2 separate regions of the Homo sapiens genome follow, and region 2 is linked to region 1. Evidence: fine-mapped expression QTL. Tissue or cell type: monocytes after LPS. Region 1 holds a variant in brackets; the other region holds the start of a gene. All regions are shown on one strand. Distances are from middle to middle.

The links. PIP is the estimated chance that this variant, and not a neighbour inherited with it, causes the effect.
Region 2: PCBD1 starts here. The variant in region 1 is fine-mapped to the expression of PCBD1 in monocytes after LPS (Fairfax 2014, PIP 0.95).

Annotation. Positions count from the first base shown.
Region 1 is chr10:70,838,585-70,846,688 of GRCh38, forward strand. SGPL1 (sphingosine-1-phosphate lyase 1) reads left to right here. Exons shown (of 15, transcript NM_003901.4): 3 at 5,889-6,054. Among named protein-coding and RNA genes, the nearest start is that of SGPL1, 27 kb to the left of the region's middle. The variant T/C (reference allele first, on the strand shown) is at 4,550.
Region 2 is chr10:70,884,112-70,892,195 of GRCh38, forward strand. PCBD1 (pterin-4 alpha-carbinolamine dehydratase 1) reads right to left here and starts at 4,454. Exons shown (of 4, transcript NM_000281.4): 1 at 4,420-4,454; 2 at 1,687-1,818; 3 at 1,041-1,121. The coding sequence starts at 4,422. RefSeq lists silencers at 3,711-3,990, 4,321-4,570.

The DNA of each region.
Region 1 (8,104 bases):
AGAGTGGAAAATAACATTAGTGTTAGCTCCCTCACTGTATTACACAACCACATTCTAAATTTAAGGAAGCCAGAAGTAAAATCACTCTGAAGCACTGCTTTTGAAACTGCAGATTATGATCCATTTAGAGGGACACAAAATCAGTTTAGTATATCAAGCGTTAAAGAAGGAAGAAATAGAAATGTGAGTACATTACAAGTAATAAGGTGCTAAGTATTATTTTGGAAACTTTTGGTTTTATATGTTTCTGTTTCTACATGTATTAGATTGTGTTGTAAAAGACATTTCTTTGGGACTGTATTTTACAACACAGTCTCATACACGTAGACTCTAATACACATATTGAAACAGTTTGAAACTCAGTGGTCTAACAAGTAGCATACCCCAAATTTACAATATTTGTAGCCTTCTGCTGTTGGGTACATTCATGAAAAGGTCTTGCATCCTTAAAGTGAAGGCTGAAAGAGTTTTATGTCATTGGGGCGAGTGGGCTACCAAGCTCCCATAAATTCTAGGAGCTGCCTTTTGTCTAACGATTAGGATTATTGAGTACTATTTTGATGCCTTTTGGGTATCATCTGAAATGTAATCATTGAATTGGAAATGGAATAAACAAGAGAAAGGCTAGTTTACTCATTATTTGACAATAGCTCTTTAAAGTAGTTAATATTATGAATATTCCTACTACTAAGGTTTATAAGAGTTTGTTTTTTTCTTTAATGTTATACTTTAAAAAGTATTATTCATTCACTGGGCAAATAATTTTTTTTTCTAGAGGAATACCTTTCCAATTTTATAACAGTGAAGGAAGGAATGTTTTACTTATAGAAACTGTACTGAAACTACTGTTCTATTAAGCAAGGGTTGGAGATAAGCACCCCTGTCCCCCTTCCCTGCCCAGGCACACACATATACAGATACAGCTTATTTTATGACTGTATTGTTCTTGTGTTTCTTCTTCTAGATAAAGACATAAAGATTGATGAAATAATTTACCTGGAGTTGCACAGTAAGCTAGTGGCCTTTGTGGATGACCATTCATAGTTCATATATTTCCAGAGACACAATACATTGATAAAATTGAAATAAACAGAAGCCTAAGAATTATAAGTATATATTCAGAGATATATAGACAAAAAAGTACTGTTATAAGTAAAAAGACATAGTGGGAATAGTAATTATAATCACATGAACTTCTGTGCCATCTCTATCTAGATCAGGGGTGTCCAGTCTTTTGGCTGTCCTGGGCCACATTGGAAGAAGAATAATTGTCTTGGGCCACACATAAAATATACTAATGATAGCTGATGAGCTTAAAAAAAAATAAAAATTGCAAAAAAAAAAAGTCTCATGATGTTTTAAGAAAGTTTACAAATTTGTTTTGGGCTACATTCAGAGCTGTCCTGGACTGCATGTTGGACAAGGTTGATCTAGATGTTTATCTGTAGTCATGACCTAACTATATAATTTTAGTATGTTATACATGGTACCATGTATCCAGGGTAGATCCTGCCAAGAACATAAATTGTGAAAAGAAAACTCTTGGGATGCTGCTGGATTGTAATGTGTTACTCCTCTGCCCATGAATACTGAAAATCAAGATTTGAAAGGGTACTGAATACTGAGTCAAAAGGCATGCGTTCCTAGACTTCACTTAATCACAAGCATGTCTGTATGAGCGTAGTCATGTCATTTCACTTTGGGGTCTCTGCTTGTAAAATGAAAATGTTAGACTTGATCTTCCAGGTTCCCTTCAGCTCTTACATTCTGTGCTTCCCAAGGGCTAGAGTATTGCATCAGGACCCAGCCTGGGGTTTGTGCTGTTTTCAAGGTCCTAAGGAACTGCATCATCCTTTAGTCCAAGGAGATAGGATACCTTATGCCACAGAGCCCAATAATTCAGTGAGCTGTGAGTGTTGTGAGTTGCATCTACATTGGGGACTGAGCCTAGGTTGTTTGTAGTAACACTAGGAGGACCTTAGAATGATGCCAGGAGATGTAATTTCTGTGATCAACTAGTTGACTACTCAAAAAGCTTGTCAGGACCCATCCAACTACAGTGTCATTCTGTCTTTGGTGTTAAAGAATTTAGATTTATCTCCTTTTAAAGGACCTCCTTTGAATTTAAGAATTGCCATTATCTTCATAAGAATCAAAACAAATACAAAGAAAATATATTCTTGCTGAATGTAATTTTTAAATGTTAGTGAGGAATGTCTTTATATCTTAATTTTAAGGCTTTTAAAAATTAGTTTGCATTTGCTGGTTCTTTGCTGTCACCCTAATACTGGTTATGTTACTTTTTTGCTCAGTGCTGTGAATTGTTCATAATATCTATAGTCATCTTTTGACATTGGTAACTTCTGTTTTCTGGGTGAATTAGGAATTAGTATCACCAGAAGAAAAGCTAATCTGAATAATTGTTCTTTCATCATCTCGTTCATGCACAGTATTTAACCATCTGGTTTGACCACAACTTTCACACTAGACGAGTCTTTATAATGATAGAAATCATGACATACTTTTGATGATAGACTCCTCTGGTCTTTCCCAGGTTTTGGCTGGTATTGCCATTGCTTTGGATTGAGGTTGTTGATGCAACAGTGGGCTCTGGGGAATGGCCACCAAGAACTGTTGGGGAATTGCAGATAAACTGTCTCCATGGGTAGCCCTCCAGGGAACTTAGTAGTTGTCTAATGTTAATTACCTTATACCACAGTCTAATTACTAAGAGTATTGTCTGAGTCCATTCAGGCTGCTATAACAAAATGCCATAAACGTGGTGGCATATAAACAAAAGTCCATTTCTCTCAGTTCTGGAGGCCAGGAAGCCCAAGAGCAAGGCAACAGCAGATATGGTGCCTGATGAGGCCCACTTCCTGGAAGGTGGCCTTCATAAAAGTGGTTCATAGAAAATGTCTTCTCACTGTATCTTCACATGGTAGAAGGGGCAAATTTGCTCTCTGGGGGTCTCTTTTATAAAGTCACTAATCTTATTCACGAGGCCTCTGCCTTCATGATCTAATGACCCCCCAAAGGCTCCCTCTTCCTCCTACCATCAGCTTGAGGGTTAGATTTCAACATATGAATTTTTGGGGGATGTAAACATTCAGTCCATTGCAGGTATAAATGTTTTCAACAAGCATTTGTTGAGTATCTGTCCTTTTTCTAAGCTTTCATGTTCCTACTAGAACACTGGATGTGGATATCCAATAGGAATATATTTAAGTCAGTATCATTATCTTTTTCTCAAAACATCTTCTACCTTTTTTACCTTCCCTTCCTCTTCTAGTCTTACCATAGTTAATACTGATATTAACTGTTAACATCATAGTTAACCAGTCTGTCGAACTTGAACTTGAAAATTTTGAATGATCTATACCCACACCCGAAAAAATTACTCACATACTTAAAAATCCATGCCTTTTGTTTTGTTTTATTGCTGTTGTTTGTAATTTACTTATTTTTACCTGATACTATGTTCTGGAAATTTTTCTACGTAGTTCATGTAGATCTGTCTTCTTCTTAATGTTTCATGGTATGGGTACATAAAATGCACGTATTATAGTTTATTTAACCATTCTTCTGTGGGTGGACATTTACATTATTTTTTCCCTTTTGTTAGAGAATACTGAAATGAATATCCTTGAACATGTTTATTTGTATACATGTGCAAAGTATGCAGATGCCAAAAAGTGAGATTGCTAGGTCAAAACGAACATGCGTTTAAAATGTTGATAGATACCAACAAATTGCTTTACAAAAGTTCCTATCAGTTTGTATATCAGTTTTTCTAAGTCCTTTTTAAACATGGACTGGATTAGCCCGTTCTTGCATTGTTGTTAAGAAATACCTGAGTCTGGGTAATTTATAAAGAAAAGAGGGTTAATTGGCTCATGGTTCTGCATATTTGTACAAACATGGCTTCAACATCTGCTTCCGGTGAGACCTCAGGAAGCTTACAATCATGGCGGAAGGCAAAACTTGAGCAGGCACGTCACATGGCAAGAGTGAGAGCAAGAAAGAGAGTGGGGGGAGGTCCTAGGCTTATAAACAACCGGATCTCACCTGAACTAACTGAGCAAGAACTCATTCATGAAAGATGCACCCCCGTGATCCAGTCATCTCCCACCAGACCTCATCTCCAATGTCGGGAATCACATTTCAACATGAGATTTGGAGGATAGGCATCCAAACCATATCATGGACCTAGCATACTTCTCCCAGCCTCACGTCTCTGATTTAAGTGTTCACTCATTTACTTGGGCACTGTTACTTGGGCACTGTCAGCCCCTGTCCATGTTTGTATTCAGTATAAATTGTGTGCCGGGCACTCTGCCACATGTTGGGGATTTAGTACTGGATGAGACAGAAATGGTCCCTGCCATCATGTAGCTTACACTTTGCCACATAGAACTTTTGCCATATGCAGACTCTTTTTATGCATTTGCAGCTACTATCCTCTCTTTCTGGTATGACTTTTTTCCTTTTAACTTTTCTACCTAGAGAATTTTCTTTCATCCTTTTAACCAGCTTAAATTTTGCCCTC[T/C]GTCATTATCTTTATCCCTTCAGAGTTAGATAGTCCTTCCTCAGTGCTCCATCTTGGCACTCATATGCTTTTTGTGGCTATTCCCCTGAGAAGTTTTCGTGATTTGTTTGTATATGTATGTGCCTGTGTGTGTGTGTGTGTGTGGACACACATCTACATCTTGCATATTAGATTGTAAACTCAGTATAGACTTGGAACTATGATATGTACCTGAACACTTCCCCAGCTTACTGCCTTCAACCCTGGAGATGCTTAATCAATGTTGATTAAGTGAATGAATAGTAAACTATAAAATGACCTTAGTTTGTACAGGGCATTGTAGGGGATTGTAGATATGAATAGAACTGGTCTGTCTTCAAGAACTTAACCATATAGTCAGGGAGATAAGAAACAGATGAGTAGACTGCAAGGCAGGTTGTGATAAGCTCTGTATAGGACTTATCAAAAATGAGTACTGGAGGAGAATTTAAAGGGAGAGAGGAATTCTCGTGAATGAGATACTCTGGTAAGTTTACAGAGGACAGGTTTTTTCTTGCTCGTACCAGGTGTTGTGAGGAATACACATGATGGTAAGATATGGTTGCTGACTGAGAGATTATAGTCAAGTAAGGCCTTAGAGCAGGCATTGGTAAATTGTGGCCTGCAAGCCAAATCTGGCTCTTGCCTGCTTTTATATGGTCCTTGTGCTAAGAATGATTTTTACATTTTAAAAATTGTTAAAGAATATTTTATGAACATGAAAATTATATGAAATTCAAGTTTTGGTGTCTGTAATTACATTGTGTTGGAACACAGCCATGTTCCTTTGTTTACACAATAACTGACTATATTTGTACTCCAGCAGCAGAGAGGAGTAGTTGTAAAGGAGAATGTTTGCTTTGCAACACTTAAAATATAAAATAATTTAGTATCAAGCTCATTACAGAACCAGTTTGCTGACTACTGGGGTAGAGAATAGGAAAGATTCAAATAGAGAAGAGAAATGACATTGATATTGGGGGTATTAGTGTGAGTTAAGAGAGTGGGACAGTGATTCTAGCAGTCATATAGAAATTTTAGGGCTGAAGTGACGATCTAGCTTAACCCTCTTACTGTATAAAATAGGCACAAGATTGAAAATAGTCTCAAAGTCCACTAGCTGTTAAGTGGCAGTGGAGTGCTGCTGGAGTGACTGGTACAGAAGCCTTGAGGGCTGTAGATGATAATAAGATTATTGCTGAAGAAGGGCAAGATCCGGAATGACCTTGCCCTTGAAAAATGAGAGTTGAAGTACAAACTAAGAACAGACTTCTTTTCTCTCTCTAAATGTAATGTTTTTATTTTTCACTTGTATTTCTAGAAGGCCTTTGAGCCCTACTTAGAGATTTTGGAAGTATACTCCACAAAAGCCAAGAATTATGTAAATGGACATTGCACCAAGTATGAGCCCTGGCAGCTAATTGCATGGAGTGTCGTGTGGACCCTGCTGATAGTCTGGGGATATGAGTTTGTCTTCCAGCCAGAGAGTAAGTATGCTGTCTCCTCTGTAAAGGTATAGTGGTGTGTCACTAGCCTCAAACTAATTGCTGAGAGATAGGACTAATTTATTGCCTTTTGGTTGTTTTTTTGTTTGTTTGTTTGTTTTTGAGACGGAGTCTCCATCTGTTGCTAGGCTGGAGTGCACTGGCCTGATCTTGGCTCACTGCAACCTCTGCCTCCCAGGTTCAAGTGATTCTCCTACCTCGGCCTCCCGAGTAGCTGGGACTACAGGCACACGCCACCACGCCCAGCTAATTTTTGTATTTTTAGTGGAGATGGGGTTTCACCATGTTGGTCAGGATGGTCTTGATCTCTTGACCTCGTGATCCACCCACCTCGGCCTCCCAAAGTGCTGGGATTACAAGCGTGAGCCACCGTGCCCGGCCCTGGTTTGGTTCTTATTTTTAAAATCTGTTTAAATGTAAAGCAGTACTTTGTCTTCTGATTGGTCAAGTTATAACAGGACTCTTGTATAACTAATACTCCTTACATTGATTTTTTTTGGATTTGTAGTTCACGTAAAAACGCCTCAGAATTAGTCATTGTAAGGATCCACAGAAATCTCAGTATGGTTTAAACCTTTGGTACCAGTTTCTTCCCTAGAACATAATTATGTCACCTGGAGTTCCCAGAGCAGGAATTTATTGCTTTCATTTTGTGCTATCCTTTTCAGTAAAGATTAGGTGAAATTGGAACAGCACTTACATGGTGACCATTTGAGTGCTTGCTATGTGCCAGGCACTGCCATCAGGCTGTGGGGATATCTGCACAAGTAGTACAGGATCTCTCTCCTCTTGGAGTTGAACTGGTATCAGGGGATCGTATACTTTGAGCTTCCTAGAAGTGACTCAGTGCCAGATCAACATGGGGAAGAAGAGGCCACTTCTCAGGGTGCAGAAGATGAGCAGTCTCAGTGATCTGCTTCTGAATCTTCCACCTTTGCTTAGGATTAAGCCCCTCTCCTGCCCACCCACCTTTTTCCCGCCTAGAAACCTGGTTGTGTGTTACCTTCTTATGAGTTATTTTCCTCTGCAGTCTGTGCTTGGTGAGTGTTGTTAGTACCTAAACACAAGTAGTGGATTTGGTGCTGGATGTTCTATAACACTCCCCTGCACCTTTTCCCCACTCTTAGTAGGGTATGGGAGTTAACTTCCTTGGGATAAGAAAACAGTAACATTGAAGATAATCATTAGCTGTTTCTCATTTGCTTGAAATTTCCCCACCACTTTGCTTCCCTGATAACACCTGTTTAAAAGGGCTCTTTAATGTGTTTTTTCTGCTTTTCTTCTCTTGTTCAAGGAAAGTCAATTTAGAAGCCAGATTCCATTTTTATCTCTTTACCCTGCAAATAGCTTCTTAGCCATTTATGGCGCAGTAAACATTGCAAAACCTGACAACCAAGAAGCAAGTTCCAACTGCTTAGAGTTTTTAAATTAAAGTGGAAATGAGACCTGACTCTCCTGTGTAAATCTGTAGCTCACTCCAGCTTTAAAAACCTTGTCCTCAGTTGCTGCTCCTAGTCCTTGCAAGATTTTCTGATAAACTCTAAGAAATTAGACTGGCCGGCCCTTCCGCTGCATCTGCTCAATGGTTTGGATATGGATGTAGCTTGTGTCCTTCTGCTCTTGCTTATTCCTTTCCTAGGAAGTATTCAATTCAGTGAGTAAGGGGCCCATTTCAGAGGATTCTGAGGGGTAGCAAGAAATATACTTTCTTTTTATTTTTTAACTTTTCATTAAAAAAAAAATCAGTCTCTGCTTATCCTTCTATTATAATAAAATATATACAACATAAAATTTACCACTTTAACCATTTTTAAGTGTACAGTTAGTCCTGTGGCAGTAAGTACGTTCACATTATTGTACAGGCATCACTATTACCAGAACTTTTTCATCACCCCACTGGAACTCCATTTTAATAAACATCAAATAATAACTGCCCATTACTCTCTCCCGCATCCCCTGGAAACCACCATTTATTGTATCGCCTTGTTTTACAAATGTACTACAATTCAAAGGTGGTACATTTATGAAATAA
Region 2 (8,084 bases), 46 kb after region 1:
CTGCTGGGCTCAGCCCTGCTAGGAGCTCCAGAATAGCAGCTGGCCAGTACGATCTCTCCTGGGGACTCCTTCCTGACATGTCTGTAACAACATCTTCTACATCTCCCCTTTGCTGTCTCTCAAAAATAATCATGACTTCAGCTATAGAATAAAAGCTTAATATCTGAATGTCAAGAGCAACCTAAAAGCTAAAGACAAAACCAAAAACCAATGCCAACTCCTAAACACTATCCATTCATAGACGACCTCTTCCACCCTTACTGTTTTTATAAACAGAGACCAGCAGAGCTTTTGGCACATGGTAGACATTTAATGACTGTTTCTATTCATTAAGCAAATAATTTGATAGGTTGGCTATGTGTCTGTATTTTTTTTTTTTTTTTTTTTTGAGACGGAGTCTTGCTCTGTCTCCCAGGCTGGAGTGCAGTGGCTCAATCTCTGCTCACTGCAAGCTCCGCCTCCCGGGTTCCCACCATTCTCCTGCCTCAGCCTCCCCAGTAGCTGGGACTACAGGCGTCCACCACCGCGCCCGCCTAATTTTTTTGTGTTTTTAGTAGAGACAGGGTTTCACCATGTTAGCCAGGAGGGTCTTGATCTCCTGACCTCGTGATCTGCCCACCTCGGCCTCCCAAATATGTGTGTATTCTTAGTTCAAGTTTATTACTTTTTCATTCTTCCATACCTCCAGCAAGATTAAAGCCATTTAGAGCTATGAACACTGAATAAGTATGCCTGATTCCCACAGCCTTTCCTTTCTTGGGTTTTGCCTTCTTAATGTCTACTTAAATGTCTACTTTAACCACAACTATCTCATGCATCTTTTAATTTGCATTTCTTTATAGTAAGACTGATTTTTTTTTCCCAGGGGTATTTATGTTGATTCTAGGCATGTGCAATCTCAGTGAGATTGGAAATGAGATGAGTGGATGACCTATGGGTCAGGAAGGCTCATTGTTAAGTCCAAAAGCCTTCAGAATGTGTCAGAGTTCGCAGTATTTGGATGGGGGCAGAGCACAACAGAGGCACACAGCATCACTCACCTTGTTGTACACGTTAAACCATTCAGGATGGTGGTCCAGTTTCTCAGCCTGCAGGGCCACTCTTGTCATGAACCCAAAGGCCTATTTAAGTGGAGTGAGAGCCAGGTTAGTGTTCTAAGAGAAAGGACTTCTGGACATCACCAATTCAAGGCCTAGACGCAGGAGGATGAATTAGCTTCCCCCCAGGAGACTCCTCTATAATCATTTCCCCCTTGACATCCTGTCACTGGTTCTCAGGCTTGAGTTAGAGATTGTCCTTGCAGTAGGAAGAAAGTCTTGCTATTTAGGATGTCAACAAGGTGGAAACACCACAACAGGCTTTTGGCCTGGCCAGTCTTGGCCGTCTGTTCAAATGTCTTCAGATGTGCATGGTTTCCACTTGAACTATCTCCTCAGAAGACTGCTGCTAAAAGTTCCAGGAAGGGAGAGCCCAAGACACATCCTCCTATGGCTCTCCAATCCCCAAAGATGATACTTTCTGAGTTAGACAGGAAAATTAATTTCCCCACTGGCACAGTGCCCAAATAACTGGATGAGTGTGGTGTCTGAGAGTCTTGGCTAACAAGACGTGAAGGGAGAGAACATGCTTTGTAAGGTGACCCCATCAGCCCGTCTCAGAAAACTCTGTCCCACCCTGGTGCCATACCCTGTTGAAGTCTTTGAAATGAAACTGCTTGAAGATGGCATCACGGCCTTCCAGCTCATTCCACCCCACAGCCCTCAGGTTTGGCAGCAGCTGGTCCCTCTCCTCAGCGCTCAGCCTGTGTGCTTTGCCAGCCTAGAAGAGGGAAAAAAACAGAGGCCCAAGGGCATTTCTCTTTATAGGTCAAAACAGAGGGGCTCCAACCTTTAGGGGAACTTAGCTTCCACTGGCTGCTTTGGACGTGGGTGACCAAAGGGCAGCAGGTCTTTGAGCAATAGGCTGGGAGGCCTCAAGGGTGGCACCCTGCCCAGGAGGTGGGGTCCAGGCTCGTCTGCCGATAGGCCCTCAGGTCTTGGGTTTTAACACTCCACACACACACAAGGGAAATCACAAAAGCAATGTAATTCATATGACGGGGACAGAGAAGCACTCTTCCCCCACCCTGCCCTCAAAGCCTTACGGACCTTCCCTCCATGAGATTATTACATCAGTGAGGGCGTAAAAGCAAAATAAATCCCAGATGCAAATATGTTACTCCACAACCTCTCAGGAAGAGTACCCATGACTCTCCCCCCTTCCTTTTCCTATTATGTACTTCATCATATGCACCCCACGTCCCTACCGTAACTTTCACGTGTATTGAAGAGGAAACAGGCCTAGAGAGGGGAAACGACTTGTCTGCTGTTCTTTCCCGCCCACCCCTAGCCAGTGATGGCGCAGTGTTGTCTGTGTGTCAGCATTGCTGGGGCTGGACGAAGGAGCTACATTTAAAATAAGTGTCCATCCCATTCTTAGCCACACTGCAGCTGACCGCCGTTGGCACTACCTCTAGTAGGTCCTCAGTCATGCTCCCAGGCAGCCTCTGGTCCTGAGCCGCCAGGGCTAGGTTTCTCTGGTTTTCCGTCTGCTTTTCTGGCTGGTTGGGAAGCTCAGGCCAAAGTGGAAGGAACTTGGCCAAAGGCAGCTGGCAAACCTAGTGCCCCATCCTATTTACCTAATGTGCGAAGTGCCCTCAAGGCAGCCCAAATTGGCACAATTCAGGCCATGAGTGGAACCTCAGAGAAAGCAAGGAAGCAAGGGTCAGTTTCATCCTAGGAGGATCCAGGTCTAGGAGCTTAACAGATCCCAGAACCTAGGCTTCTAGAGTAGCACCACCCCAGGGCAGAAATAGAGTGCTGAATTGAAAAGATACCCTTAGGGGTGGGGAGGGAATGTGAGGGAGGTTGATTTAGCTTTTATGAGGCAGCCTGCAGACTGGACACCATGTGTTGATTGGCAGGAGTTTTGAGACCCGCTTTCACCATTTACCAGCCAGGTGGCTGTACCTCTCTTGGCAGAACCTCCACCTCCACAGATCATCATGAGGTGCCAATGGGACACTTTAGGAAACTCCACTGCTATAAAGCAAATGTCATCTGCATTACAAAAAAAAAACTTCCTAAGGCAAGCAGGCTTGTGATGGGCCTGGTAGCATTTGGGGTAGCTGAAGCATCGCAGTGCTTTCCTAAGTCCGTCTTTTTTCCCTGCTGTTTTCCCTCCTGAAAACGTGAGCTCTCTCTGGACTGATGTAGCTTGGCCCCTCTCTTCCCCTCGGCTCTGGATGACTATAGGGATTGAATGGCAGCAGCGATTTGCATCATCTGCCCAGTAGGTAGGTCTCTACTCCAGAGCTGGCCTTCTCCCCGTGGCTGACCGCCTGGTCCGTGTATCTAGACAACCAGAAGTCAGCCAAAGCATCAGAGCCCACTGTTTACTTCCTTGGCTCTTAAAGGGGTGGGTGAGTCCAGGTGAGCTCTTAGGAGGCTTCCCTTTCTCGGTAGAGCCTTCTGGAACCCCCCAGGTCGCACAGCCTGCGGCTGAACTGACAAACCTTCCAGGTGCCGGCTCTGGAGACAGAGAGGGGGACGCTGCCCCGTTTGCCTCCTCTGGCGAGGTGTGGGGAGTGGTTACCGATTTCCCAAGCCTGCATCTCTGGGACCTCAGCGCCCCTCACAAACAGCCCCACTCATCCTCCCTCCCCCAAGTCCCTCTCCTATCAAAAGGCCCTCCCAGTCTTGCCTGCTCCGAAGGCCTGTGGACCAGAAATGGTCTGATGAAGCTCGCGAGCTTACAGCAGAGCAAGGGCCCCGCCCCCGCCCCCGCCCCGGGGGTGGGTGGGGGAAGCTCACGGGAGGAGGGCTGCTCCAGCGCCACCAAGCCCCCGTGGCCTGGCACGGGCCTCAAGCCGGCGCGGGGAGTGGCTCTGGGGCCAGCATACCGGCGCAGAGCGTGAGTCCCAGGCAGACCCCGTACCCAGAGTGCCAGCGGGAAGGGGCAGCGGACAGGCACGCACACGAGCGCGCAAACTCAGCCTCCCTCTCGCTCCCACCCCAGTATAAAGCAGAATCGGGCCACCAAGGGGACGAGATCCGTGGACTCCTCCACGACTGTCTTCCCCGGCCCAGGAAGGTCGTAGGCCCCGCCCCCGGAAGGGTCCCGGAACAAGCACTGGCCGGGGTCAGGGCAGGCCTGGCCTCCCAACTGGGTGGGATTCGAACCCGCCACCGCCCCTCTCAGGGCTTCAGCTTCCCCTCCCCGCCGCCAGCGACAGAGAGCCGGGCAGAGACCCCACTTTCGGACCCCGGCGGCTCCGCAGGGGACTCGAAAAGACTTTCCCCCGCCCCTTCCCGCTCCCACCTCGCCCGCGGCTGCCCCGGCCCCGCTGCCCCGATCGCGGCCGCGCACCCCTGGACTCACCATGGCGCGGGCGGCAGCAGGTGGCCAGCGGAGAGGGCAGGCGGCGGCCGGGCGCGCAGGCTGCCGTCCCGGGGCGGGGCCGCGCTCGGGCCGCCCTCCGGTAATGATTAACGTCCCCAGCCAGGGACGCGCTCGGCCTGCTTGCTTCCAGCACTTTCCTCGCTGCTCAGAGCCATCCTCCGTGCTTGTTTCAGGGAGCTAGGGTGAAGCATGAGGGCTCCAAATGCCCGCTTCTGGGTTGGAATCCCACCCCGCCGCTTACAGCTGGGTGGCCCTGGGCGCCAGAATACCTATTTTTTTCTTTATAAAAATCTCTTATTTGGATATAATTGACATGCAATAAATTGCACATATTCAACGTGTACAATTTGATAAATTTTAATGTTTCCCTCGTGAGACCATCACCGAGATCAACATTATGAACATATCATCATCCCTGCAAGTTTTCCCTTGCCCTTTGGTAACCCCTTCCTCCCGAAACCACCTGGCCAGGCAAGCACTGATGTACTTTAGGTCACTATAAATTAGTTTGCATTTTCTAGAATTTTATGTAAATGGACCATAGAGTATATACTAGGCAGGATAACTGTTTTGGGGTTCAGCCATGTTGTTGCCTATATCAATGGTTTCTTCCTTTTATGGCTAAGTAAAATTTATTTTATAGTATTGCATTGTACAGATAGACTACAATTTGTTTAGCGATTCACTATTGGACATTTGCGTTGTTTACCTTTTGGCTATTACAAATAAAGCTGCTGCGAATATGGTGCACAAATCTTCGAAAGTACGTATGTTTTAATTTTCCTTGAGTAAACACTTAGGAATGGAATGCCTGGGTCATGTGGTAGGTGGACTTTTATAACTTATTAGGAAACTGCCATACTGTTTTGCAAAATGGTTGTATCATTTTATATTCCTAGCAGCAGTGTATGAAGGTTGCAGTTCTCTGTCCTCACCAACACTTGATATAGTCAGCCTTTTAAATTTTAATTGGTGTGTAGCAGTATCTCATTGTGGTTTTGAGTTTCCTTGATTAGTAATTGTATTGAATGTCTTTTCATGTACTTATTTGCTAAGGATAAGTTTTTTTTATTGAATAGCATGTTTGAATTTCCTGCCCATTAAAAAAGAAATTGGGTTGTCTTCTTATCGAGTTTTGAGGGTGTTTTATTCTGGATATAAGGACATGATCAGGCAGTGATTTGCAAATATTTTCTTTGCATTATCTTATGGTGCCTTTCAAAGAGCAAACGTTCTTAATTTTGATGAAATCCAATATATCAAATGTTTCTTTTATGGATTTCTATTTTGATGTTGTACACATAGAAATCTTGGCCTAACCCAAGATCAAAAGTTTTCTCCTATGTTTTATAGCTTTTGGTTTTACATTTAGTCTGTGATCCACTTTGAGTAAATATTTTTATATGCTTCAAGTTATAGATCCAGATGCACTTTTGCACATGGCGACTCAGTTATTCCTTTCTCCACTGAGTTGTCTTTGCACCTTTGTAAAATATCAATTGACTGTATACATGTGGGTTTATTTCTGAGCCCTTTCTTCTGTTCCATTGATCTGTTTGTCTGTCATGACAGAACACTACCTTGTCTTGATTATTATAGCTTTATAATAAGTCTTAGAGTCAGATTAGAAAAGTCCTCTCACATTTCACATTTTTCTATTAACTTTTATTCTTGTGCTCCACTTTTATTCCCCGCCCCCCACCACCGCCCATAGCAGCCTCTCTAATGTGTTAATGTGTATTTTTGTTTGCACAGGTTCTTGCAAAATGTGTGGTGTTGTTTCGTCTATGTGTATTTTTAAATTTATGTAAATGGTATTATGTAAATATATTACATTTCTCAGTCTGTTTCTTACAAAACAGAGTATTTAGTGGAAAATTAAGATCTACCCATGTTGCTATATGTATATTCAATCTGTAGCTTTTAACTGCAGCCTAGTATTTTGTAATGAGAATCTGCCATGGGTTTCTTGTTCTATCAGTGATGGACACTCAGGTTCCCTTCAACTTTCTGCTGCTACCACCACCTCCCAAGCCCGTGAGCATGTGGGCACACAAACACATACGTACACAGAGTTAAACAACAATGCTGCTGCAGTGAACATCTCTAATTGCTCCCTGGGCTGTGGGCAGTTTCTTAGGCAACTTAAGTATATCCATACCCTATAAATCCAGCAATTCCCCCCATGGGTGTGTATCTCAAAATAGTTCTAGATGATGTCCAGGATGGGGACACCAGTCCTCATTCTCTCCTGCATGGTGTGAGGGGGTACTATTTCCATATGCATCTTACACATACATACTCACACTTCCCATTAGCCAGCTTTTTATTTTTTTGTCAGGCTAATAGCTATAAAATGAGAGCTTGTTGTGATGCAGGATTTTTCTTGACCCCTTTGCTGAGGTTGCAGCAGGGAGTGCCTTATCTACTCAGCTTGCCAGGCCCCATCTGGCTTGTGTTACAGCCCATGGCTCACAAGGCCACTGCGACTGTATGCTCAGCCCCTGGCGGGAGGGAGCATGTGACCGAGTGAATGCAGGGTCCAGCCAGCTGCACTGAGCCATGACACAGGAACAGGCTCTGTGTGGGGCCCACAGCCAGATCAGGTGTGTCACCCCAAGGAGACTGTGGCAGCACCCAGGCAGGGGTGCCTGAAGCCCCAGAGAGGGGTGTTACAGTGTGCTAAATAGCTCTTTTATCTCCACCATCTGCAGCCTGATGGACAGCGGCATGTTGGCAGCTCAGGCGGCCCCTTTCTCCACTCTGGCCCGTGGCTCCTGGACCAGCTTGGCCCTGCTGCAGCTTCTGTTCTGTGGGGCAGCTGCCCTCCACCAGTGAGGGTAGAGGGCCAGCGTTACAGCCTTTGTGGGTGCCCACATTTGGTGGGTCCTGAGCTCTTGTTCTGCATCCAAGAAGAATGAGGTCATGCTGACAGTTGAAGGGTGATGAGGATGGAGAATTTTATTGACGATGAAACAGCTCTCAGTGGAGAGGGATTGAGAAGGTGGGGTTGTCTATCTCAGTGTGGCTGAGTCTAGGGGGTTTTATAGGCACAGGATTGGGGAGGGGCGGGCTGTAGGTAGTATTAGAAAAGGCAACATTTGATTGGTTAAAAAGCATTATTCAGAAAGAACCAATCAGGAAAGGGTGGGCAAACAGGAACAGAAGTTCTCACCCTGGTTTGAGGGGTTTCATCCCAAACCAGCAGTCCAGGCTGTTTTTGGCTTGAAGGTGGGGTTTCACTGGGGACCCACCCCCATCTGCCTAGGAAATTGTCTGCCTCCTGCCGCTTTCAATTGTTTTACTCTACATTGTTTTCTGATGACTAATGATTTTGAGAACCTCTTCATATGCTTGTTACCATTTGGGGGTTACTATTTGTGAATTGCTTTTTAATATCCTTTGCCAATTTTTGAGAATTTTTAGTGCTCTCTTTTTTTAGTTGGTTTGTGGGTGTTTATATAAAATCTAGACATTAATTGCTTGTCAGTTTTGATATTGCAAATATCTCCTCTCATTCTGCCATCTGTATACTGACTTCTTGCATGAGATCCATGATGTCTGTGGGCAGAAATCTTATATTTTGGTGTAATAAGATTTATCTTTTTTCCCTCTGCCTTATAATTTTGTGCATTTGAAAATTT